Linked DNA regions of Homo sapiens: regions 2 and 3 are each linked to region 1. The links come from fine-mapping of genetic effects on gene expression. A gene starts in region 1. Each other region holds a variant in brackets. All regions are shown on one strand. Distances are between the middles of the regions. Region 1 holds the start of MPST (mercaptopyruvate sulfurtransferase). Region 2 has its middle 22 kb from the start of EIF3D. Region 3 overlaps TMPRSS6 (transmembrane serine protease 6).

What was found. PIP is the estimated chance that this variant, and not a neighbour inherited with it, causes the effect.
Region 2: its variant is fine-mapped to the expression of MPST in spinal cord (GTEx, PIP above 0.99).
Region 3: its variant is fine-mapped to the expression of MPST in whole blood (INTERVAL, PIP above 0.99).

What each region holds. Positions count from the first base shown.
Region 1 is chr22:37,016,152-37,024,323 of GRCh38, reverse strand. It overlaps MPST (mercaptopyruvate sulfurtransferase), which reads right to left and starts at 4,582. Exons shown (of 3, transcript NM_021126.8): 1 at 4,452-4,582; 2 at 1-132. The coding sequence starts at 4,487. It overlaps TST (thiosulfate sulfurtransferase), which reads left to right and starts at 4,877. Exons shown (of 3, transcript NM_003312.6): 1 at 4,877-4,924; 2 at 5,571-6,186. The coding sequence starts at 5,592. RefSeq lists silencers at 4,266-4,585, 4,596-4,715, 4,746-5,135, 5,296-5,355 and enhancers at 4,829-5,330, 5,359-6,334.
Region 2 is chr22:36,547,492-36,555,667 of GRCh38, reverse strand. No RefSeq gene overlaps it. Among named protein-coding and RNA genes, the nearest start is that of EIF3D, 22 kb to the right of the region's middle. The variant G/A (reference allele first, on the strand shown) is at 3,680.
Region 3 is chr22:37,090,822-37,098,997 of GRCh38, reverse strand. TMPRSS6 (transmembrane serine protease 6) reads left to right here. Exons shown (of 18, transcript NM_001374504.1): 3 at 449-582; 4 at 2,283-2,350; 5 at 2,908-3,092; 6 at 3,406-3,447. Among named protein-coding and RNA genes, the nearest start is that of TMPRSS6, 15 kb to the left of the region's middle. RefSeq lists an enhancer at 522-1,027. The variant A/TATCA (reference allele first, on the strand shown) is at 4,455.

The DNA.
Region 1 (8,172 bases):
CCAGGAGGCGTCCAGCAGCTGCAGAGGCTGCCCAGCGCGCGGGGCCCGCAGCGCCTCCGCCACCCATTGCGCCGACACCAGCGCGCGGCAGAGCTGCGGCGAAGCCATGGCGGCGACACTCGGGCTGCGGGCCTGGGCGACAGGGAGGATGTCAGAAGGGAAGCAGGGAGAGGCCGCTGTTGGGGCTAGGGCTGGGGCTGGAGCATGGGCGAGGGCCGGCGGGGGAGGTGCGGCCCGTGCAGGGCAGAGTCCAGGGAACGCAGAAACCAGTGGTGGTGAACCCGGGCACAAAGGTGGGTAGCCAGGGGCCTCCCTCTGCCAGGCCTCATATAAACACAAGCTCCGAGTGACCCAATGACCATGACCTCCCGGAGAGCCCCAGGCCACGCCCCTCACCTCCACTTGCTGGGCAGGAGGGTGGGTGGAGGTATCCTAGGGCAAGGCCCTGCTGGCTTCAAGGCACAAACAGGGGCAAAGTCTCCACCCCTCCCTAAGATGCAGCTCGGCTTTATTTGCAACCAAGTCCCAGACGGAAGTCATTCATTCACTCATCAAGCATTTATATTGGCGACCTAATAGGAACAGTAGCTGGAATTTACTGAGTCCTTGCTGGGTACCACTGAATCCTAACAATATCCTAGAACAATGCCTGACACAGTAGACTCTCCAGTATGTGTTGAATGAGTGATCTTAAGAGGCCTGGTATATTATTGTCACCGTTTCAAGGAGGACACTCAGGCTCACAGAAGTGCACTAACCTGGCCTGGTGCGGTGGCTCACGCTTGTAATCCCAGCACTTTGGGAGGCCCAGGCAGGTGGATCACCTGAGGTCAGAAGTTTGAAACCAGTCTGGCCAACATGGTGAAACCCCGTCTCTACCAAAAATACAAAAAATTAGCCGGGCTTAGTGGAGGGCACCTGTAATCCCAGCTACTCGGGAGGCTGAGGCAGGAGAACTGCTTGAACCCAGGAGGCGGAGGTTGCAGTGAGCCGAGATCGTGCCATTGCAATCCAGCCTGGGGAACAAGAGCAAAACTCTGTCTCAAAAACAAAAAACAAACAAGAAAAAGTGCACTAGCCTGACCCGGCGGTGCCAGGCTTCTCACTAGGCAGTCAGTCTGGCACCAGAATCCGGACTTCTCAGACACACACTCTGTGCAGGCTCCAGGAGTCTGGCGAGGCCAGGTTTTGCCTGTCCAGCCTGGGCTCTCTCTGGCCCTTCTAGCAGCAGCAACAGTGACTTCGCACCTCCCTCCCTCTCCTCTCTATCTTTCCTGCATACCAGAGACAGTGCACCAGCTCGCCAGCCCACTATGCCAGGCCAGCCCACAGCCTTCCTGGGTGTAAACTTCCCAAACACTTTAAGCCCTTTGTGCTGGGAAGCCACCGTTGTGCAGGTGAGAGGAAAGGGCCCCTTCTGCCAGGCAGAGGCTGAGCCCCCACCAGGGCACATGGCTGGGTGTGTGGAGTATGGGCTGCAGATCAGCCCTCACTTATCCCCTGTGTGAGGCCCAACCTTGACACCCACTGCATGCAGTCCTGCCAGCGAAATGAAGGGGGCAGGTAGAGAACAACATCTGTGGACCGAGTGCCTCTGTGGGCCAGGTCACATGCTAGGCACCGCAGCCTTGGGCGGGTATTAGGACGCCTGCTTTATGAATGAGGCCACTGGCAATTAGAAGAATAAGTGCCTTGCCCGTGGTCACAGGAGGCAGCCTCAGGATTTGCAGCCAGAATTTGACCCCTCAGGCTGGACTTCCCCTGCCCCAGGTGCCATGATGACCAGGGCCTAATGAGTTCTAGGGTGACACCCTGTGCCCACCCCCACAGTCTGGCCGCAGCTGGCTTTTAGGAACCTACTTCACCCATGCGGTCAGGCCTTGTGCCGGACACCGAGGCACTCTTGCCTTTGCCAAGCCCTGGGGGGAAACGTCAGGCTGCAGGCAAGAGAGAGTGAAATTGAGGATAGTTTAGAATTCAGTGTTGAGCACAGAGGGCCCCTATGTTTGCCTGGGGTGGCAGCAGAAGAGGTGGGAAGGCTTCCTGGAGTAGGAGGAAGTCCAGACTAATCTGACTTTTCCAGGGGCCCAGGAAGCCTCAGCACGGTCTTTAGGGTAGGGAGGCTGCCAAGGGGTGTTTGGCTAAGGGGTGATCCCCATTATCTGCGTTACAGCACAGCTAGGGGGCGCTGTGCTGGCAGATGCTGCAGGTTCCTTCCTGAGGAACCCTATTGTGGGAACCACAGCAGCCCCTGTGCACCCCCAAACACTGTCCCCTATTCTTGAGGATCCTTGTTTCCCTCACCCAATCATCCATTTACAGTAGAAAGAGCCCTGGTTTAGGAGCCAGAGAGCCCCCCAAATCAATGTAAACCCCACTCCACTGCTTAACTGGTTGTGTGATGTGGGTGTGTAGGGTCTCTGGGTGGTTTCTGTTCCTTATAATGGAGCTTCTCACCTCCACCTCTTAGAGCCAAGATTAAACAATAAATGTAGAGGGGCAACCACCATGCATTACATCTGGCTGGTTTTAATAATCATTAAAAACGGTTTAGGTCGGGCGTGGTGGCTCACACCTGCAATCCCAGCACTTCGGGAGGCCAAGGCGGGCGGATAACGAGGTCAAGAGTTCAAGACCAGCCTGACTAACATGGTGAAACCTCATCTCTACTAAAAATACAAAAATTAGCTGGGCATGGTGGCATGAGCCTGTAGTCCCAGCTACCCGGGAGGCTGAGGCAGGAGAATCGCTTGAACCTGGGAGGCAGAGGTTACAGTGAGCCGAGATCGCGCCACTGCACTCCAGCCTGGGCAACAGAGTGAGACTCCATCTCAAAATAATAATAATAATAATAATATTGCATTATTTCTTCCATTACTCTCATTGGTGGCCCTGGAACTGCCAGCAGCAAATCTAAAATCTTAGAATTTCAGGGCTTGGTGGGACTTCAGAGATCTGAGGTCACCCTGCCCCAGTCTCCCTGCTTGATTGGCACTTCTCACAAAGGTCTGTGGGCCATAAAGGAGGGTGTGAAGGCAGGCTGTGGGTGTCAGGGAGGGGTAGAAACCAGGTGCCTGTGTGATTCAGAAGCCGGGATCACTGTAGGTGAGGGTGCCCTGGGAGTGGAGGACCCCAGGACGTAACCGCCCCAGGCTCATGTCAGAAGGATACACAGCTGCACTGAAGCAAGCGTGAGCCGCAGGCTGGATCCAGGGTACCCCTTGAGGAGCAGAGCTTGGGAGCTCCTCTTGGACCTCCCCAGCCTGGTCCCTCCTGCCCACCCCCTCCCCCAACCACCAGACACTAGGCTTTGAGGATTGCTGTGAGCATTTTAGAACAAAACCTTTTTTTAAAAAGAGGGATGAGGCCAGGGATGGTGGCTCATGCCTGTAATCTCAGCACTTTGGGAGGCTGAGATGGGCAGATCACTTGAGCCCAGGAGTTCAAGACCAGCCTGGACAACATGGTGAAACCCCATCTCTACCAAAAATTTAAAAATTAGCCGGGAATGGTGGCACATGCCTGTGGTCCCACCTACTTGGGAGGCTAAGGTGGGAGGATCGCTTGAGCCTGGGAGGCGGAGGTTGCAGTGAGCTGAGATGGCGCCACTGCACTCCAGTCTGGGCCACAGAACCACAGCCTGTCTCAAAAAACAAAACAAAACAAAAGGTCAGGGTTGGGAAACAGGGAAAGCTTCCAGGCTGGCCTCTGCAAAAGCTAGGGAGGGGCAATGGTGTCCCCCAGTTTGCAAGAGCCCATGGCGAGCTTTTCAGGAATTTTGCCAACTGGTTGTTAAATACAGCTATTATTAAAAATTGAATTACATCAACTTATGATTAAACGGGCTAAGTTCAAAACAGGCAATTTTTTAAAAAGCATGAACCTTCAGGGAAGAGCCAGGTAAACAAAGGCAGCTGGTACCACGTGGGCTTCAGACCAGGGATCAGGCCCGGCCTCAACTCTGGGTGTGTCCTCCAGCAACTCGCTCTGCCGCTCTCTCCTGTCTTAGTAAGTTTCTGGCCTACTCCTCAGGGTTATTGTGGGAATTAAGTCACACCACGGGAGTACCCAGCAAAGTGCCACACCAAGCAGGGCTGGACAATGTTAGTTCCTTTCACTCACTAACAAGTTATTGGCTAGTGTCTCTTCCTGGGGCCTCTGGGTCAGCGGGGTCTCGTCTCCCTGTCCTCCTCTCTCTCCCCCGCCCTCTCTGGTGCCACCAGGTCACCCACTTCCACCCAAGGCTCCCCACCCGCCACTCGCCACGACCCCACCCGGCAGGCCGCCCCAAGCGGACAGTCACCCTTAGTGCCAACGTAGCGGCGCGCCTTCTCTCCTAGACTAAGCCCCCTCTTCCGCCCAGGTCCCGCGCGGGAGCCCCGCGCCGAGCACCCCCAAAGAGCCACTCCCTCCCCCTCCAGAAAGGCAAGCCGCCACGCCGCGGCAGTTACCCGGGTCTCGGACTCCCGGCTTCCTGGCTCCGCCATGGCCCCCGCGGCGCGGCGCCCCCTCCCCGCGCCCGCAGCTGTCCCCTCCTCCCGCCACCAACCTGCAGCGGACCAAAGGGAGGAGACTCCGGCACAGCCCACCGCCGCGGCCACTCGGAGCCGCTGCTGCCCGCGCCTTCCACTGGCCGGGCCGTGGGGGTACGCCCGCTCCGCCCAGCCCAGGCCCGCGCGGCCCCCGCGCCACCCGGCGTCCCCCTCAGACCCCCGCGGGTCCCGGAGGCCCCGCGCGCGAGGTTGGCAGGTGCCGGGCGCGAAGCGGCCGCGCGGGGGAGGCGCGGGATGGCGGCGGGCGGCGCAGGGTCCCCCTCTGGCGGTGGCGCGATGGTGCGCGCCGCCTGGGGAGCTGCGGCCGGGGGTTTGAACCGGCCAACTTCTCCAGCCGGCCGGGGCGAGCGCCAGCGCGGCGTCCGGGGCGAGTGAGTGCGGGGCGGGGGCAGCGGCCGGGCGCCTGGGCCGCCGGTCGGGCCACCTGCTGCCCGGGGAAGGATAGCGTTGCGAGAGTGGGACGGGGTGCCCCGGGAACCCCTGATCCACCTAGGGCAGAGGGCAGCGAGCTACGGGCCGGACTCGGGCACTCTGGAGGCGGGCGAGCTCGGGCTGCCTGGGGAGGCCGCAGGCGATGGCGTGTGCGCGGCTCGCGGAGCTTCCTAGCCGTGCGCCCACCCCCTCTGCCTTGGAAGGAAAGGGGATTCTAAGCCCAAGATGCCATCGCCCCCCATCCCGGGCATGCTTTCATTGCTCTTTCCTGGCGGGATCGAGTACTGTAACTTCTAGGAGCCAGATCCCCGCCCCAGGAAGCGCCCCTACTTGGAGTCCTCGGAAACTCTTGCCCCACCCGCTTCTGCGCTGGGCCCCCGGGCCGGCTGGGAGGGGCGGGGCCGGCTTTCCAGAGGGAATCTGCAAACTTATCCCGCTGCACGCCCCAGCCTCGCTGGCTTGCTGTAAACAAGGAACCCGGGGGAGTGCGGAGGGAGAAAGAGCTTCTCCCAGGCCTCACCCTACTGCACACACCGACTTCCTTCCTCACGCCTGTCTCTCTTTCCTGGTTCCCACCCGTGCCAGGTGACACGCAGAGCTGAAGCCATGGTTCATCAGGTGCTCTACCGGGCGCTGGTCTCCACCAAGTGGCTGGCGGAGTCCATCAGGACTGGCAAGCTGGGGCCCGGCCTGCGGGTGCTGGACGCGTCCTGGTACTCACCAGGCACCCGAGAGGCCCGCAAGGAGTACCTCGAGCGCCACGTACCCGGCGCCTCTTTCTTTGACATAGAAGAGTGCCGGGACACGGCGTCGCCCTACGAGATGATGCTGCCCAGCGAGGCTGGCTTCGCCGAGTATGTGGGCCGCCTGGGCATCAGCAACCACACGCACGTGGTGGTGTATGATGGTGAACACCTGGGCAGCTTCTATGCTCCCCGGGTCTGGTGGATGTTCCGTGTGTTTGGCCACCGCACCGTATCAGTGCTCAATGGTGGCTTCCGGAACTGGCTGAAGGAGGGCCACCCGGTGACATCCGAGCCCTCACGCCCAGAACCGGCCGTCTTCAAAGCCACACTGGACCGCTCCCTGCTCAAGACCTACGAGCAGGTGCTGGAGAACCTTGAATCTAAGAGGTTCCAGCTGGTGGATTCAAGGTCTCAAGGGCGGTTCCTGGGCACCGAGCCGGAGCCGGATGCAGTAGGTAGGTGTCCCAGTGCTGGGTGGTCCCTGGGGAGTATTGCCCCATGGAAGGATAGGGAGTAAGGATGACTGGGACCCTCTCCAGGGTCCGTCCCATGCCTTCAATCCTCCCATGTAGGCCTCAGTCTTTCCATCGATAAAACCAGAAAGTGGAGACAAACCTAAAGGCTTTTTCAGCTTGGATGCACAAGGACCCAAGAATGTGTCCTCATAGCCATGTGCTAAGAAGCCACCTAGCATCTGTGTGAGCAGAAGTCACTGGTGACATGTCCACCACCTCCACTCCCAGGCACCAGCTGCCCCACATGTACTAGGATATACCTAAGGGTGTCATGCCCCTGAGCCAGCGTTTGCATTGCTGTACAGAAACCTCCCACGGACACATCCAGCTTCTCCAGGCCTCTCTCGTCCCGCAGAAACCCTTATAGACATCAACAGTGTCCCTCCCCGCAGGATCCCCCTCTCCCCAAATCTAGCTCTCCTGGGGCCCCTGCCTGCTGTTTGCAAAGGTTCCATAACCTTTCCAGGCAGCTGCAGCCCGTCGGCAGAGTTGTAACAGCAGCTGCCATTTCATGCCAGACACTTGGCACCGCATTATCTCAGCGAACAAAGCTCAATGCCCCTGTTTTGGCAGCGGGGGGTGGGGGGACTGAGATGCCAGGACATAAAGTGGTGGAAGGCAGGATTCGAATCCAATGCTGCCTTGTTTCAAACCAGGGCTATAAACCAGGACGCACCCAATGCTGCCCTACCCCTACTTCCCAGGGCCAGGAGGGAGTCCCCTCTGCTAGTTGCCCCAGGAAGGCGACTCAGAAGTTCCCCTCCTGTGGAAGGGAAGGCCAGGTGGATTGGATACTGCTTGAGGGTTGGGGAGAGCCTCAGGAGAGGAAATGCTGAGTTCTAGAACCTCCTAGCCAGACAGAACCTCGGAGGTCTTCCCTTTTCTAGAGGCAGGACTGCCGTCTCGCTGCCATCACTCCTGCTGAGTGCCCTCCAGTCCCTGCCTGGCCATTTCCAGGAGCAGGGCCCTCTCTTGTCTCTGGGCACCTCCTTGGTGGCTCTTTCCTCAGTCAGAGCTCCTTCTCTACAGAATCTAACTCGTGTGCAACATTTTGCCTGACTTGTTGAAAAACATCTCTTCCTGTCTGTACCTCCTACAGAGAGAATGCTGGGAAAACTGTTCTGCACACTCTTAGAGCTGGAGGGCCTGAACGGTGACCTCACCTGACAGAGGGGAGACTGAGGTGCACAGAGGCAGGGGCCAAGGCCGCATAGCTAGTTAGTGACAGAGCCAGGACAGCAGGGTCTCTGCCCTTTCCAGCGCAGCTTTTTCCAGGCCCCATATTTTTCTTGCCTGCTTGCTCTCTGAAGGTCTGGAGTTGAAGATTCAAGTTCATTTGGCACCTCCCAGAGAATCCTGGCTGGGAACGCCTGCAGCCCTCTCCTGGCCTTGGTTCAAGACGCCTCTTCTCCTTGGGATTTAAGCTGTCATGGGGGAGGATCAGTGGAATTGGTTCTCTTGCTGCTTCCCAGCCTGCCCTGAAGCAACCTAAGAAATAAGTGGAAGGGACAGCTTGGAGGTGCCAGGCCCAATGTCCTCACCCATTTTACAGATGAGGAAACTGAGGCTCAGAGGAGGAGAATGGCCTGCAGTGGGTAATGCCTCCTGAAGGCCCGGGATGCTGAAGTTCCTCCTCTGTAATTGTGTTCACACCTCCTTCAGTTTCCCTCAGGAGCATCAGGGAACATGGATTCTCATTTCAGCTCAGCCACTCCTCCTTGGAGTGACCTCAGTCCAGTTGCTTGGCCTCTCTGGGTTTCCTTATCATAAAATGAGAAGAGTCACGCCAGCCCTACCCACATGAGTATGCATTTGTTTAAATGTAGCAGTGGCGGCCGGGCGTGGTGGCTCACGCCTGTAATCCCAGCACCTTGGGAGACCAAGGTGGGCGGATCATGAGCTCGGGAGTTCGAGACCAGCCTGACC
Region 2 (8,176 bases), 470 kb after region 1:
GGTCCCCTAATGGAGAGCTGTGCAGGATACAGAAGGGCAAGGAGAAGGAAAAGGGTGATTCTTCCTGGCAGGGGTGTGGAGATCTGGGTTATAGAGGTGGTGTCAGGGAGTGTTGTACAGTTCTGAGTCGTGAAAGCCCCAGAGAACTGAGACTTAGGCCATACCCATCTCCTTTCTGGTGCTATATCAGCCTGGGCTGCAGCCACAGAGACTTACACTGGCTCTTAGGAACACTTCAAGACCACTCCGATGCCTTGCATTCATTCATTCATTCATTCATTCATTCTTTCATTCTTTCAGCTCCCACCACATGCCATTCACTGTGCTTAATGCTGGGGATAGCTGCAATCAAGACAAACATGGTCCCAGCCTTCTGTAACTCATGTGCTATAGGAAGAAAGGGAAAATTGGCCAGGTGCGGTGGCTCACGCCTGTAATTCCAGTACTTTGGGAGGCTGAGGCAGATGTATCATGAAGTCAGGAGTTTGAAACCAGCCTGGCCAACGTGGTGAAACCCCATCTCTACTAAAAATACAAAAAATTAGCCGGGCATGATGGCGCATGCCTGTAATCCCAGCTACTCGGGAGGCTGAGGCAGGAAAATTGCTTGAATGCAAGAGGTGGAGATTGCAGTGAGCCAAGACCATGCCACTGCACTCCAGCCTGGGCAACAGAGCGAGACTGTCTCAAAAAAAAAAAAAAAGAAAAGAAAAGAAAAAGAAAAAGAAAAAAGGGAAAATTAGCAAGTTAAGAATCAAATAATTATATAATTATAGATTATTGTGAATGCTATGAAGTAAGTGCATTGGGGCAATGATTTTTAGAATATCAGCTACCCAGGAGGCTGAGGCAGGAGGGATGCTTGAGACTAGGAGTTCGAGGCTGCAGTGCACTATGATTGCACTTGTGAACAGTCACTGCACTCCAGTCTGGGCAACGTAGTGAGAACTTGTCTCTCTAAAAAAAAAAAAAAAGAGAGAGAGAGAGAAAGAGAGAAATTTATCAGGGATTAACCTCTCTTTAGATGACTGGAAATTCAGTGGCTTAAAACAGCAATACCATTTTATTATCTCCCACAGTTCTGTGGGCTCAGTTGGGTGGTTCTTCTGTTCCGTATGATGTTAGCTGGGCCTGCAGTCATTCAGGGGCTCACCTGGGCTGCAGCACCCAGGCTGGCTCACGCACATGGCTGGAATCCATGCTGACTGTTGGCTGGGGGTTCAACTGGGCTGTTGAGCTGAACACCCCATTTCTCCCGCTGTGTCTCTCTATGTGATATGGGCTTCCCACAGCATACCAGCTGGGTTCCAGGTGGCAGGAAGGAGAAGCTGCCAGTCATCTGAAGGCCTCACCTCGGAAGCCTCAGTAAATTACCTCTGCCACATTCCATTGGCCAAAGCCAGGCCCAACGCCCGGCCCACTTCCAGGAGGAGGAGAAATAGAGTCTGTTTCTTGATGGGAACAGCAGCATACACAGGAGAGGCCAGGAAGCACTGGGAGTTGTCTTTGCAGACCAGCTACCACAACCCCTTTAAACAGAGCAGTCAGGGGAGGCCTCCCTAAGATGCTGACTTTCAGCAGAAATTTGAAGCGTAGGAATGATGAGCCAGGCAGAAGCAGGGGATGGGAGAGAGCAGAGGGCTCCAGGCAGAGGGAACGGCACATGCAAAGCCTCTTTTTCTTTTTTTTTTTTTTTTTTGAGACGTAGTTTTTGCTCTTGTTGCCCAGGCTGGAGAGCAATGGCATGATCTCAGCTCACCACCACCTCTGCCTCCCGGGTTCAAGTGATTCTCCTGCCTCAGCCTCCCCGAGTAGCTGGTATTACAGGCTTGTGCCACTACTCCCAGCTAATTTTGTATTTTTAGTAAAGACCGGGTTTCTCTATGTTGGTCAGGCTGGTCTCGAACTCCTGACCTCAGGTGGTTCGCCTGCCTCGGCCTCCCAAAGTGCTGGGATTACAGGTGTGAGCCACCACGCCCAGCCACAAAGCCTCTTTTCTGAAGCAGGGAAAGAACCTGGCTTGTGAGAACATCTCAAAGATGACTCCAGTAGTTATCCTGGGTGAGCAAGGGGACAAGTTACACAGGATAAGGTGGAAGAGGTGGGCAGGGGTCAGTCCTCTAATCCCGGGGTCCCCAATCCCTGGGCCTTGGACCAGGGCCACACAGCAGGAGGTGAGCAGCGGGTGATGGAGAATTACCACCTGAGCTCCACCTCCTGTCACATCAGCGGCAGCATTAGATACTCACAGGAGGATGAGTCCTACTGTGAACTGTGCATGAGAGAGATCTAGGTTGCCTGTTCCTTATGAGACTCTAACTAATGCCTGATGATGTGAGGAGAAACAGTTTCCCACCCAGTATGTGGAAAAATTGTCTTCCATGAAACTGATCCCTGGTGCCAAAAAGGTCGGGGACTGCTGCTCTAATCCAAAGGGAAGGCCTTTGAGTTATATTCTAGGTGCAAGGAGAGCCACTGATCCAGACACAACAGGGAAAATCACCACTGGGCTTTCCATGCAAACTTCACCCAGCCAGAACCAGGGCTCAGGGCTAAACACTGTGGCAATGGCCCGATATAAGAAAGGCATTTTTCTTTCCTGAAGCTCGTGATTTTATTTGAATTATTTACTTGCAGGCCGGGCACAGTGGCTCACATCTGTAATCCCAGCACTCGGGAGGCCAAGGCGGATGGATCACCTGAGGTCAGGAGTTCGAGACCAGCCTGGCCAACATGGTGAAACCCCATCTCTACTAAAAATACAAAAATTAGCCAGGCATGGGCACCTGTAATCCCAGCTACTTGGGAGGCTGAGGCGGGAGAATCACTTAAACTCAGGAGGCGCAGGTTGCAGTGAGATCACGACATTGCACTCCAGCCTGGGTGACAGCAGTATTCCATCTCAAAAGTAAATAAATAAATTAAATTAAATATAAAATGAATTATTTACTTGTAATTTGTAACCCATCCTTTTCCATTCAATTCAATTTCTATTTATTCAGCTTATTCTATGAGTAGAACAGCTTACAGTAAGACTTATGAATAAAAGTCTGTCAAAGGTAGAAGACCAAAACCATGGAAAGGGGAAGTAAGCAGTTTGACAAAAAGCACAAGCTTCCTGGCAAGCAAGGCAAAAAGGGAAACATCATACACTCTGTAGCTTTCACTGTCAAAGTCAACACTTCAGTTGCCGTGGAGAAGAAAATCTTTTTTCTTGATCTCATGGTCTCTGGGGAGCAGAGAAAACATACATGAAACAGTAATTAACAATTCAGGGCTACAACTAGAGAAGGCCAAAAGAGTGCCCTAGGCAGAAGCTGGGATGGAAGTCTTCCAATCTTTGCATCTCAGAGCACTCACCCCTTGAGAAAAGGCAGGAAAGGGCACGCAGGAGAGCAGGGACAATGGAGTTGGAAAGGTCTGCATTTGAAGCCCTGCTCCACCCTTCGCCAGCTGCATGACGAGCTCAAGAGATAGCTTCCGTCGGTCTTCATTTCCTCATCTGCAAAATGGGTTCAATAATCCCCGCATAGGGTTAGCTCAGAGGACACACTGGAATGAAAGCTCCTGGCATAGTAGCTGGTACGTAATAGGAGTAGTCACAACCAAAGCTGGAATCTATTAAGCTCTCCCTTTGTGCCACGCATTAATTTAAGCACTGCATGTGTTAATGCTAAAG[G/A]CAACATTGTGAGATAGGTCTTATTATCCTCATTTTACAAATGAGGACATGGAGGCTCAGAGATGTTAAGATATGTGCCCAGGTTCACACAGCAGGAATATGGTGGAGCTGAGACAATAAGCCAGGTAGTCCATTGGCTGCAGAGCTCACCTCCTCACCGCCACACTAACCCACTTCTCCAATAGTGGTTTCCTTGCCCCCTTCTCTTTCCCTTCATCCCCCAATACACTGCTGAGTACTCACAGCTAACTGGAAGCAGCTCCCTCCACAAAGCCAAAATCCCCGTCCCACTAGCTCATCTCACTCTCACCTCCTCCCCACCCTTTGCCTCTCTCCTTGTCTGAGCTCTGTCCTCTGCAATTCATGAAAGCCAGAACTGAACTCTCCTCACAGGACAGCCCTTCAGAGTCCGTTGCTTCTGCTGAAGGGCATGGCAAAGGATTAACAGAGGTGAGATGCAAAGCTGGCCATGGAGAATGGGGAGGATTCTTCCCATGGGCTCCTTGAGGGCAGAGGCATGCCTCACTTATCACATGTGTGTGGTACATGGCAAAGCCCAGTAACCTTATGAGTTGAATAAAGGTGAATTGAATTGAATTGAACTGAAGCGGATTGCAAAGTTGAATGGATGGAAGGTGGGTGGGTGGATGGATGAATGGATGGATGGATGATTGAATGGATGAATGGGGGGATGGATGGATGACGGATGAATGGATGGATGATTGAATGGATAGGTGGGTGGATGGATGGATGATTGGATGGATGGACAGGTGGATGGATGAATGGACAGGAGTGACCACCGCTGGTAGGGAATTCTGGTAACTGAAGGTACAGAGGTAGGAATGCCCAAGGTGTGTTGGAAAACACTGAATAAATTAGTGTGATTGGAGACGAGGACTCATGCTAGGGAGATGCAGAAAAAGAATAAATATCCACACTCTCCCTCCTACAAGGAGAGGTGGAGGCACTGGCAGGTGCTGTACAAGTTGTGTGCTCCATGGCTGCTGGGAAGGGAGGCGTTAACAGCAGGATGGTTCCTGGCCAGCTGCAACCGGGGTGACACTGACAGATTACAGCGTGTCCTCCGCACTAATAACACTGCGGCGTCCTCCTGCCATTCCCCAGCCAGCTCCAACTTCAGTGGATCAATACCAAAAGGCGCACACTGAAAATCCCCAGCCAACTCCCTCCAAGGCTTGGATGCTTCAAAGCACAGAACTGCAGAGTAAAAGGATCTCAGCGATTTGCTTATTTCCTGGGCTGGGCGCTCCCTGGGGCCAGGGATGGTGTCCTATTCACCTTGGCTTCCCTGCCCCATTACAGGACCAGGCAAGGACAGCCCTCTCCCAAAGTTTGCTGAGTGAAGGAATCTACCTCCTGGCCATTGCGAGTCCTCACAAACACATCTGTGTGGCTCACAATCCCTCAGCCTCTACTTGCATACCTCTAATGACAGGAGGCTCTCAACCTCCCCCAAGCAGCCAGAGCCTGCCTTTATTGGAAAGCTCTGATGATTAAAATCATCTTCTCTATTCTTTTCTTTTCTTTTTTTTTATTTTTGAGATGGAGTCTTGCTCTGTTGCCCAGGCTGGAGTGCAGTGACACGATCTCAGCTCACTGCAACCTCCGCCTCCCAGGTTCAAGCGATTCTTCTGCCTCAGCCTCCTGAGCAGCTGGGACTACAGTTGAGTGCCACCACGCCCAGGTAATTTTTGTATTTTTAGTAGAGACGGGGTTTCACCATATTGGCAAGGCTGGTCTCGAACTCCTGACCTCGTGATCCGCCTGTCTCGGCTTCCCAAAGTGCTGGGATTACAGGTGTGAGCCCCTGCGCCTGGCCCGTCTTCCCTATTCTGAATTAACCCCTCCTCTTTTATTTGTCCGTGGTCTTCTATTTCCCAATTTCTTCCTTTTCCCTGGACACCTCTTTCCTCCTCTCCCAAACCATCCAATATCCCAGTCCTCATTTCCTGGGGTACTGAAGTCAAATAATTAAGGGGAGGAAGAAGGGAATTAGCATTTATTGAGTACCTTCCCTAGTTGAGATAAGTCAGAAATGTCCACGTGCCAGATGCAGTGGCTCATGCCTGTAATCCTAGCACTTTGAGAGGCTGAGTCGGGAGGATCACTTGAACCCAGGAGTTCAAGGTTGCAATGAGCTATGATCATGTCATTGCACTTCAGCCTGGGCAAGAGAGTAAGACCCTGTCTTAAAAAAAAAAAAAAAAAAAAAAAAAAGCCTCATGTTATTCCTATCTCACAGATGGGGACTCTGAGGCTCAGAGAGGTTAAGAAACCCAGAATCACACAGCCACACAGGGGCAGAGCTGGGGCTGTGCCTTTCCAGACCGCAGGCACACAGGATGGATGTTTCCCACATCTTCTTGGCCTCAGGTGAGTCTAGAAAGGACATAACTGGTCCCCTAATGCCCCGAGGGACTTGCTCGAGGTCACAAGAGCAAAGGGGTTGCCCAGATCGAGGCTCTTCCCCCACAGCTTGTTGCTTCCCTCCCTCTCCCCCACCCAAATAGCATTTCTCAGGGAAGAAAACCTGGGCTCCTTAGAAAAACAGCTGATTCTAGGAGTGGGGCAGGGAAAGAACGAGAGGAGGCGGGGACATTTTGTTCTTCCAGGAAGCCAGGAAGTGAACAGACTATGGGGACTGGGGCACAGACTTAGGATCCTCAATGCATCAAAAAGAATGGGAGGACACCAACTCATTATATATCAACTGGCTTCTAAAAGGGGAAGTGGGAACCGAGCAAAATAACATGTATTACATTGTATTACATATAACATGTAAAGTACACATATGCATGCATGTATAGGTGCCCATCCTGCCTGGGAGAGCTCTGCACACTGTGGACACTTGCTGAGATGCCGCCCTGAAAACCTCTGGGCAGGCATTCCAAGCCCCTAGCCCATCCCAGCCCGGCATCTCCCAAGCCTTTCCCTGCCTCTCCCTCTACAGTGAAGATCAACAGGGACGAGGGGCTTCCGTGTGGCGCTGACCCGCACAGATGCCTGGAGAGGAATTGGCTTGCCCAGAATCCCCACTGGGCACTGGGACCAGATCTCCCGGGCTCCTGAGCCCATGGCCTCCTTCCCAGCCCAGTCCACCCAGCTTCCTGGTTCGTGTGCATGGCCTGCTGAGCTGGAACTGCTCGAGAGTCAGCACGAGCCTTAGAGAGGCTGTCCCAAGCCAAGCCCGCAGGCTGCCTCTCTTCCTCTTACTGTGCCTTCTGCCCTGCCAAACGCCTGCCGGCTATGACAGCCCCGCAGCAGCCGCTCTCCCCTGCCTCGTCCCTGCTCTGTCTCTCACCAGGCCTCTGCAGTCCCCATTTCCTGTCCCCATCTGATCACCTCACCCCCAGTCCAGGCCCACACAGTCACACTTGTGCACACAGACCTCTTGATGTCCACGTCCCTACCCCCTGCCATCCTCATCCCACCCTCCAAGCCCGCCCACCCTTTGTCCAAACCAGCATTTAATGGTGACACTTGTCAGGCTCTCAGAAAAAGTCAAGATCTAAACCCACACTGGCTCTTCCCAAAGCCCATGTTTGTAGTTAACAGGCACTTGTCTTGTCTTGCTTTTTGTGCTTATGTCTATATAAAACACCTCTCACAAAACAAACAGGCAAAGTCTCTAGAAAATAAAAAACACAAGAAAGTGTAAGAGTAGTCACCTCTGGGGAGGGAGGGAGGCCAAGGTGGGCAGATCACGAGGTCAGGAGTTCAAGACCAGCCTGACCAACATGGTGAAACCCTGTCTCTGCTAAAAAATACAAAAAAATTAGCCAGACGTGGTGGCATGTGCCTGTAGTCCCAGCTACTCAGGAGGCTGAGACAGGAGAATCGCTTGAACCCAGGAGGCAGAGGTTGCAGTGAGCCAAGATCATCCCACTACACTCCAGCCTGGGCAACAGAGCGAGAATCCATCCCAAAAAAAAAAAAAAAGAAGAGCAACCTCACTTGGGACTTTTTGAGCCTTTTGAATTTTGTACCCCATCCGTGAAAAACCCATACACTTCAGCTTTAGTAAAGGTGACCATTAAAAAACAAAAAAGACAAGTCCTGACTCCACTAGTACCAGTTTTATGACCTTGGGAAAAACTTATGTCAGTATCCCAAGTCTCAGTTTACTCGTGTATAAAATGGGGATGATCACAGTACCTGCCTTATAAGACAGACAATAAACCAAGGCCCAAGAAGTGCTTAGCACCACGAAATAGTCAAGGCTCAGTAAACATGAGTGATGGGCCTCTCTTTGCCCACCTTCTCCATGGAACTCTGAGCTCCTAGCAGAGCTCCCAGCATGGTGATTCCCTGACAAATACAAGATGCAATTCACAGTCCTCAGAATAGCTTTCAAGGCCCTCCCTGCTGGTACCACTGTCTTTCCTACTGCATCTGTTACCCATCCTCAAACACATGACTGACGCCCTTTGACAGCTCCTGCCCGTACATACCCCACTGCCCCTGATGCTTTCCTTC
Region 3 (8,176 bases), 75 kb before region 1:
CTGTCTTGGTTAACTGGCGTACCCCATGTAGTAGGTGGTTAGCACACACTGTGGGATCCCTGGGTGACCTCACGAGTGGAAGGATGCCTAGTGGTGCTGACCCATGACCTTGGCCTCCTGGGCCTATGTGGATTTCCTGGCCTTCATGTCATTGGTGTCCTGGACTGGTCACTGTGTCAGCCTCTCCCTGGGAACCTGTAGGACACCATCCATCTGGGAGCCTTTCACCTCCCTGGTACCTTGCAGCCAGTTTGTCATCCAATAAACTTTAGATGACCATGATGACAATGGGAGTGACAAAGATGATGATGATGACATTGATGGTGCCATGGAGACCCAAGACACTGAGGCTGAGCTGAGGGTGTGGGTGGCAGGAGAAGGCATGGAAGAGACAGGAGACTTTCCCACCTGCTTCCTCCACTAACCCTGCTGGTTCCTTCCTGGGCAGGGTACAAGGCGGAGGTGATGGTCAGCCAGGTGTACTCAGGCAGTCTGCGTGTACTCAATCGCCACTTCTCCCAGGATCTTACCCGCCGGGAATCTAGTGCCTTCCGCAGTGAAACCGCCAAAGCCCAGAAGATGGTAGGAAAGGATCTGGGGGATGAGAGGGAGGGAATATGGGGGTGAAAAGAGAGGGGTGGGGTCTGATCACATGGAGCCAGTTGGTCAACCCATCTGGAGCATTCACAGGGACCACAGCCCTGCTCCAGGCACCATGGAAGCAGATGAGGTTGAGGGTCATGGGAAAGTTAGTGGATGTTTGGGTCAATAGCACTCGGATTAGATCCTGATCATGCCTCTTACCAGGGGTGGAGCATGACCTTGGGAAAGGTCCCACAGTGCAGCTGACACTATTGAGGGCCCGCTCCTGCCCCTCCGTTACAGGACGGTGGCCCGCTCCTCCCCCTCCGTTACAGGACGGTGGCCCGCTCCTCCCCCTCCGTTACAGGACGGTGGCCGCTCCTGCCCCTCCGTTACAGGACGGTGGCCGCTCCTGCCCCTCCGTTACAGGACGGTGGCCCGCTCCTCCCCCTCCGTTACAGGACGGTGGCCCTCTCCTCCCCCTCCGTTACAGGACGGTGGCCCTCTCCTCCCCCTCCGTAACAGGACGGTGGCCCTCTCCTCCCCCTCCGTTACAGGACGGTGGCCCGCTCTTCCCCCTCCGTTACAGGACGGTGGCCGCTCCTGCCCCTCCGTTACAGGACGGTGGCCCACTCCTGCCCCTCCGTTACAGGACAGTGGCCGCTCCTGCCCCTCCGTTACAGGACGGTGGCCCGCTCCTGCCCCTCTGTTACAAGACGGTGGCCCGCTCCTGCCCCTCCGTTACAGGACGGTGGCCACTCCTGCCCCTCTGTTACAGGATGGTGGCTCACTGCACGGAGGCTGGTCTACTGCCTGCCACTCTCAGGCTGCAGGACCACTGCCCAGCAAGGCAGGCCAGAAGTGCCGGGGAGTTATTCCCAGGAGCAACCCTGAACCATGAGCGCTGGAGTGGGTGGATCAATACCGCAGCTTCTTTGGCCCTGGCAGGGGGAATAGTTCACAGAATGTTCCAGGCTGTCTCCCAGAGATGCCCTATTCGGCTGAGCTCAGATGCTCTCAGCTCTACACTGCGCATTCATGGCCCTGTGTTGGTTGCCCACTTTCCAGTCTCTCCCTCCCAACTACTGTTTCCCAGAATCACCTCCAAATAAACCACTTGCCCCACCTTGTCAATGGAGGGTCTGCTTCTGAGGGACCCAGCCTGAGGCTGCCCGTTTCCTCCTCCATGAGGTAGGGGTGATAACAACAGGACCCGGCTGCAGATTTGTTGTGGGTTGCAGTGAAGTTGAGATAACACGAACACTATTCCCACGCTGCGCAAATGCTTAAGAGCCTGTAATCCTGCCAGCAGCGCTGTAGTTGGAGATGCGCAAAAACTACCCATCAGAGCTGCTGGCTTGTCCCAGGCCATGGGAGGAGGTGCAGAGGGGACCCAGGAGCCGAGTGGGGTTTCTCAGAGTTGAGGAGTGACTTTTGGCAAGGGGCAGAGGGGTCATCAGCAGTGCAGGTGGAGGTGAGAGTCGGGTGTAGTGGAAACAGAAAGAAGGGGATGGGGTGTGAGATTCATGCATGCCCCGGCCCGGCCACTCAGCACTGTGTGACCGTGATCAAGCCTGTCCACCTTGGAGAATCATGCATGGAGCGGGGCTGCCAGTAGGAGCAAAGGGCACCTCCAGGTAGGAAGTGGGCCTGTCTGCCCTGCAGAGGGTCCCAGGGGCTGTTGTCTTCCCTTCTCACAGCTCAAGGAGCTCATCACCAGCACCCGCCTGGGAACTTACTACAACTCCAGCTCCGTCTATTCCTTTGGGTGAGTTGTCCTTGCCCCTGACCAGCTCCTGCAAGAAGCTGAGATTCAAAGAATGGGAGGGGCCTCTGTAGGCTTCTGATGCAATGCCTTCATGTTTCAAATGGGGAAACTAAGGCATAGAGAGGGAACTTGGCTTCCTGCATGTCACCCTCCCTTCACTGGGCTCATCTGTAGAATGGAAACATGGGTGTGATAGGTTTGCACCAGACAATGACTGTGATGGCTGATCAAGGGCCTGACACCATCAGGCGAGGCGATGTTGGAGGGGCATGGGGTTAAAAGCATTGGCTCCAGGGCCCGACTGCCCCGTCCACATCTGGTTCTGCTACTTGCGGCATAGTTTATGAGACACAAGTTCACCTCTCATGCCTCAGTTTTCTCATTCGTAAAATAAGGATTATGAGAGCGCCTCCTTCAGAGGTCGCTAGGAGGCTTCTGCGTGAAGACGGACAGCAATGGCTGAGGTGCGGAAAGTGCTCGATGTGCATGAGCAGGGGTGGAGCTGGGGCCAGACCTCAGAATCCTTCCCTGGCCTCTCTCACTTCTGCCTGCCTTAGGGAGGGACCCCTCACCTGCTTCTTCTGGTTCATTCTCCAAATCCCCGAGCACCGCCGGCTGATGCTGAGCCCCGAGGTGGTGCAGGCACTGCTGGTGGAGGAGCTGCTGTCCACAGTCAACAGCTCGGCTGCCGTCCCCTACAGGGCCGAGTACGAAGTGGACCCCGAGGGCCTAGTGATCCTGGGTCAGTACTGCGAGTGGAAACGTGGGGTTGGCCTCATGAGGTTGGGGGAAACAAGCTGTGGTGTGGCCCGGGGAGGCTGCCTGCCAGGCCTGGGGTGCTGTCAGGGTGGGCCCCCCAGGAGAGCCCCCCAGGTGAGGTAGCAGTGCCATTGCATTCAAGGAGCCAGGAAAGAAGGGTGGGATGGGGGCATTTAGGGTAAATCTCAGACAAGGCTGGCTCCAAGGGTCTCCTCTAATTTTATTTTCATTGTATTTTCTTTTCTTTTTTTTTTTTTTTGTTCTTGTTTATTTGTTTGTTCATTTCCTTTTATCAGAAGCCAGTGTGAAAGACATAGCTGCATTGAATTCCACGCTGGGTACGCTATTTTTTTTTCCCCTCCCCATTTTCCTTTTGAGTTGGCATTTGTCTTGACTTTGTTGTGTATCAGGGGGACACATGGCTTCTGTTGTGTGTGCAGGGAGCCCTGGCCAAGAGTCACCCAGGGGATGCCATGGTGGACTCAGCGATGTGTCCCAAGCAAGTCTTGGAGCCTGTAGGGGGAGAGGAGGTGGCGACGTGCATGCGTGTATTTGTGTGTGTCTTGTAGACGGGTGTGCATGCGTTCCTGTGTGGGTGTGAGGATGAGTCAGGTTTAGTGGTCCACGAACGTGACTCTCCTCTATCATTCACTTCAACCTGCCCACAAGCTAGTTTCCACTGATGGTAGAAAATCATCTTGCCAATTCACGGTTTGTCAGTCACGTTGGTTTTAAAACTTGGTCTTTTGGAGGTAGCGGTGCCATTGCATTCAAGAACGCTCCTTCCCTCTTTTCCTTTCCTTCCCAGTCAGGCTCATCAGCCCTCCCTCCCTACCTGGTGCCGTATTGCTAGAGTCACCTTGCATTTCTCCAAGCGGACCCACAATCTTTCAGCTGACCAGCACAGTCACCACGCTGCACAAGGCAGGAGGTGCTGTCCAAGTTGTAGTTTGTGTGAGTTGTGCAGTGCACCAACTGGCTGCTGGACTCTATGGCCCCTAAATTCTCAGATTCCTCCCACACTATCTAGTGTTGTCACCCAGAGCCAAGGTGGGGGTGAGCGTCTCAACCCCTTCTCAGGGAGGGAGGCAGAGTTTAAATCCTTGTTATACCTTTCCTTACCTTCCCGTCTTCCCATCCTGCTGGTCAAATGCTTGCTTCTTTGTTGGATGGAGGTGATGAGGTCAAAGTACAGTTTTCAAAGAGGTGAAATCATGATTCTCATACAAAGATAGAGTGACCATGTGTCAAATATTTATTTGGCTGATTAATGGGGGAACGAGTAGAATGGTAAAGAATGCAAGAAACTGATCTATTTGTCTATCTATCTATCTATCTATCTATC[A/TATCA]TCTCTGTTGATATCTGTCTGCTTGTCTATCTAGTTATCTAACTAGCTAGCTGTCTATTATCTATCTGTCTGTCTCTCTGTCTCTGTCTGTCTAGCTAGCTAGCTGTCTGTTTATATCTATCTATCTATCTATCTATCTATCTATCTATCTATCTATCTATCATCAATCATTAATGGAAAAAGAGAATTGCTAGAATAAGATTACCAAGTTAGATACAAACCTGGTTAAGGTCCTACCAGGCAAGAAAACTCAAACCTTTGGAGTTGTCTTTTCTAGTGAATTAAAATCATTGACAGCTTATTACAGTCTTCTGAAAGTTAACATCTACCTCTACAGAGTCTGAGGTTGATAATCTACAACCAATAGTAAGTCAGAGATATTACTCCTGAGAGCCTCAGGGGGACTTAATCAGATGATGCTTGGAGACAGAGACTGGCTCATTGCAGCCTGGACACCGAATCTGGTCAATTGCTGCCTGATTTTGTATAGCCCATGAGCCAAGAATGACATATATATATATATAACAGAGTCTCACTCTGTCATCCAGGCTGGAGTGCAGTGCCGCGATCTTGGCTCATTGCAACCTCCACCTCCCAGGTTCAAGCAATTCTCCTGCTTCAGCCTCCTGAGTAGCTGGGACTACAGGTGCCTGCCACCATGCCTGGCTAATTTGTATATTTTTAGAAGAGATGAGGTTTTGCCGTGTTGGCCAGGCTGGTCTCGAGCTCCTGACCTCAGGTGATCCACCTGCCTCCACCTCCCAAAGTGCTGGGATTACAGGTGTGAGCCACCACGCCTGGCTCCATAGGCCATTTTTCAATTATTAAAAAATATAAAAGTCAGCCAGGCATGGTGGCTCATGCCTGTAACCCAGCACTTTGGGAGGCAGAGGCAGGCAGATCACCTGAGGTCAGGAGTTTGAGACCAGCCTGGCCAAGAAGGCGAAACCCCGTCTCTTCTAAAAATATAAAAATTAGCCGGGCATGGTGGTGCGCACCTGTAGTCCTAACCAGTCAGGAGGCTGAGGCAGGAGAATCACTTGAACCCGGAAGATGGAGCTTGCAGTGAGCTGAGATTGTGAGGTTGTGCCACTGTACTCCAGCCTGGGCGACAGAGTGAGACTCCATCTCAAAAAAAAAAAAAAAAAAAAAAAAAAAAGAAAGAAAGAAAGGAAAGGAAAAGGTCCTATGGAAAGTTATTTTTTCTCCTGCAATAGAAGTGCTATGTAATAGCCTCATGTTGCCTCGTGCCTCTGTGTCCCCATGTTCCTGGCAGTTGTTCTGTAATTATCTGTGCTCAGTGGGTGTTCGTTTCATGAATGAATGATTGAACAAATGAATGAAAGCATGAATGAGGAGACTGGTTCAGTGCATGTCCAGAGCACAGAGTCTCAGGGGGCAGAGATAACAACTCAAATCCTTGAAGTCGACTTTATGAGCACTTCCTTCATGCCAGGCCCCATTCCTGCGCTGAGGACACCAGGATGACCGTGTCCTCACCCCTGCCCTCGGAGGAGCTTTAAGCCCCATGAGGGAGACAGACACATAAACAGATTCTCATAACACCAGGTGCCAGTGTGAGAATAGAGGCCCCAGAGGCAGTGGAGAGAGGGAATTGTTCGTTCCAAAGCAGAAGAGGGGGCAAATCAAGAGCCTCACACAGAGTCCCAGATCTACAGGAGGGAGGGGTTGCTCCTGACTGGGGGATCCTGGAAGACTTCATGGAGGGGGCATCAGATTTGGGCATGGGCCGGGCGTGGTGGCACAAGCCTGTAATCCCAGCACTTTGGGAGGCCAAGTTGAGCGGATCACCTGAGGTCAGGAGTTCGAGGCCAGCCTGGCCAACATGGCAAAACCCCATCTCTACTGAAAATACAAAATTAGCTGGTCATGGTGGCCCATGCCTGTAATCCCAGCTACTTGGGAGGCTGAGGCAGGAGAATTGCTTGAACCCAGGAGGTGGAGGTTGCAGTGAGCCAAGATTGCACCATTGCACTCCAGCCTGGGCAGCAAGAGCAAATTCCATTAAAAAAAAAATTAGCTGGACATGGTGGTGTGCACCTGTAGTCCTAGCTACTCGGGGGTGGGGGTGGGGGGCTAAGGTGGGAGGATCACCCGAGCTCAGGAGGTCGAGGCTGCAATGAGCTGTTGTGATCGCATCACTGCGCTCCAGCCTGAGTGACAGGCTGTCTCAACAATAAAATAAAATAATTTTCAAAAGAAAAAGAAATTCAGGCATGGGGGTAGGCAGGAATTTGTCAGGGCGAGAAGAAGAAAGGGTTCCCTGAGCAGAGGGAATGGCAGGGGCAAAGGCTGGGGGAGGGGAACACCCAAGGCGTGTTCAGTTAATTCCTCCCAGCCCCGAGAGGTGCCAGGCTCCCTGAAGGTGTTTCTGATTAACAAGAGGTTAGCACACACCTCTCCACGGAATTCGTCTCAAAAAAAAAAAAAAGGGTAATTATTAAAGTGGCAAGAGCAAAGAATCTGCTTGGAGCAAGATTTAAAGAACACAAAACCCTAGGAAGAGCCAGCCATCTTTCCCCAGCTGCTGGTGGAGGCCCTGTCCCTTCCCTAGGCAGACATTGTTGTTCTCTCTCTGGGGAGGTCAGCTCCCCACTGCAGTCAGCATGGCCAGGGGTCAGGGAGAAGGGGCTGAGCCACAGGTGGCAGCATCAGAGCAAAGTGTATTCACCTCCATTCCCTTCCTGGTCCTCAGCACTGCCCAGAGGAGGTCATAGGACAGGGATTATTATTACATCCATTTGACAGAACTTGGAATGGCTAAGCCACTGGCCCAGACTCAGTTAACTACCCAGAGGTAGTGAACATCTACCTCTACAGAGTCTGAGGTTGATAATCTGCAACCAATAGTAAGTCAGAGTTATTACTCCTGAGAGCCTCAGGGGGACTTAATCAGACAATGATTGGGGACAGAGACTGGCTCACTGCAGCCTGGACACCGAATCTGGTCCACTGCTGCCTGATTTTGTATGGCCCATGAGCCAAGAATGACATCATCACACAGCTGATGAGTGTTGGTGCTAGGTGGGGAGGGTAGTGCCCCTCCCTCCTTCTCTCCAGTTCCCTCCCCATATACCCCCTCCCCTGGGGGCCCAGCAGATGGCACTAGCCTGGGGGGCCTGCCCTCAGGCTGACCAAGCTGACAGGGGGACTTTTGCTTGCCTGTGGCCTTCCAAAGAAGACGATTTAAAGCAGAGAAAACAGACTGAAAACTCAGGTTTTATAATTTCATGTCACCAGGCTGCCTCCCACATCCCAGGTTCATTCCTAAATCCCCACTGGCTCCTGGAAGAACACCAGGCTTCTGGCGAGGTTTAAATGAGATACTGGATGCTCCACGGGAGAGAACATGTTCACTGGCAGACCCTGGTGCCTAGATCGAACACACAGTCGGTGCACAGTCACTGTTTTGAATGAATGAATGAATGAATGAATGATGCAGGTGGTACTGCTTTGTAAGTTCTAGCAGTGCATCAGAGCTTACGGATTAGATGGAAGAGCAGAGACTCACTGGTGTGTGGGGTAGGGGGGTGGGGTATGATGGTGAAACAGTTGTGAAGTGAGGCAGCCGTGAGATGGGCTAGGTCTGAGCCTCAGGCGGGGCCAGCTGCAGGATGAAAAGTCACAGGCCTTTCTCCCCAGCCCTACCTGCTCCGTCTCCCTCACACCCACCTGAGGAACCAGGCACTGCCTTTATTGAG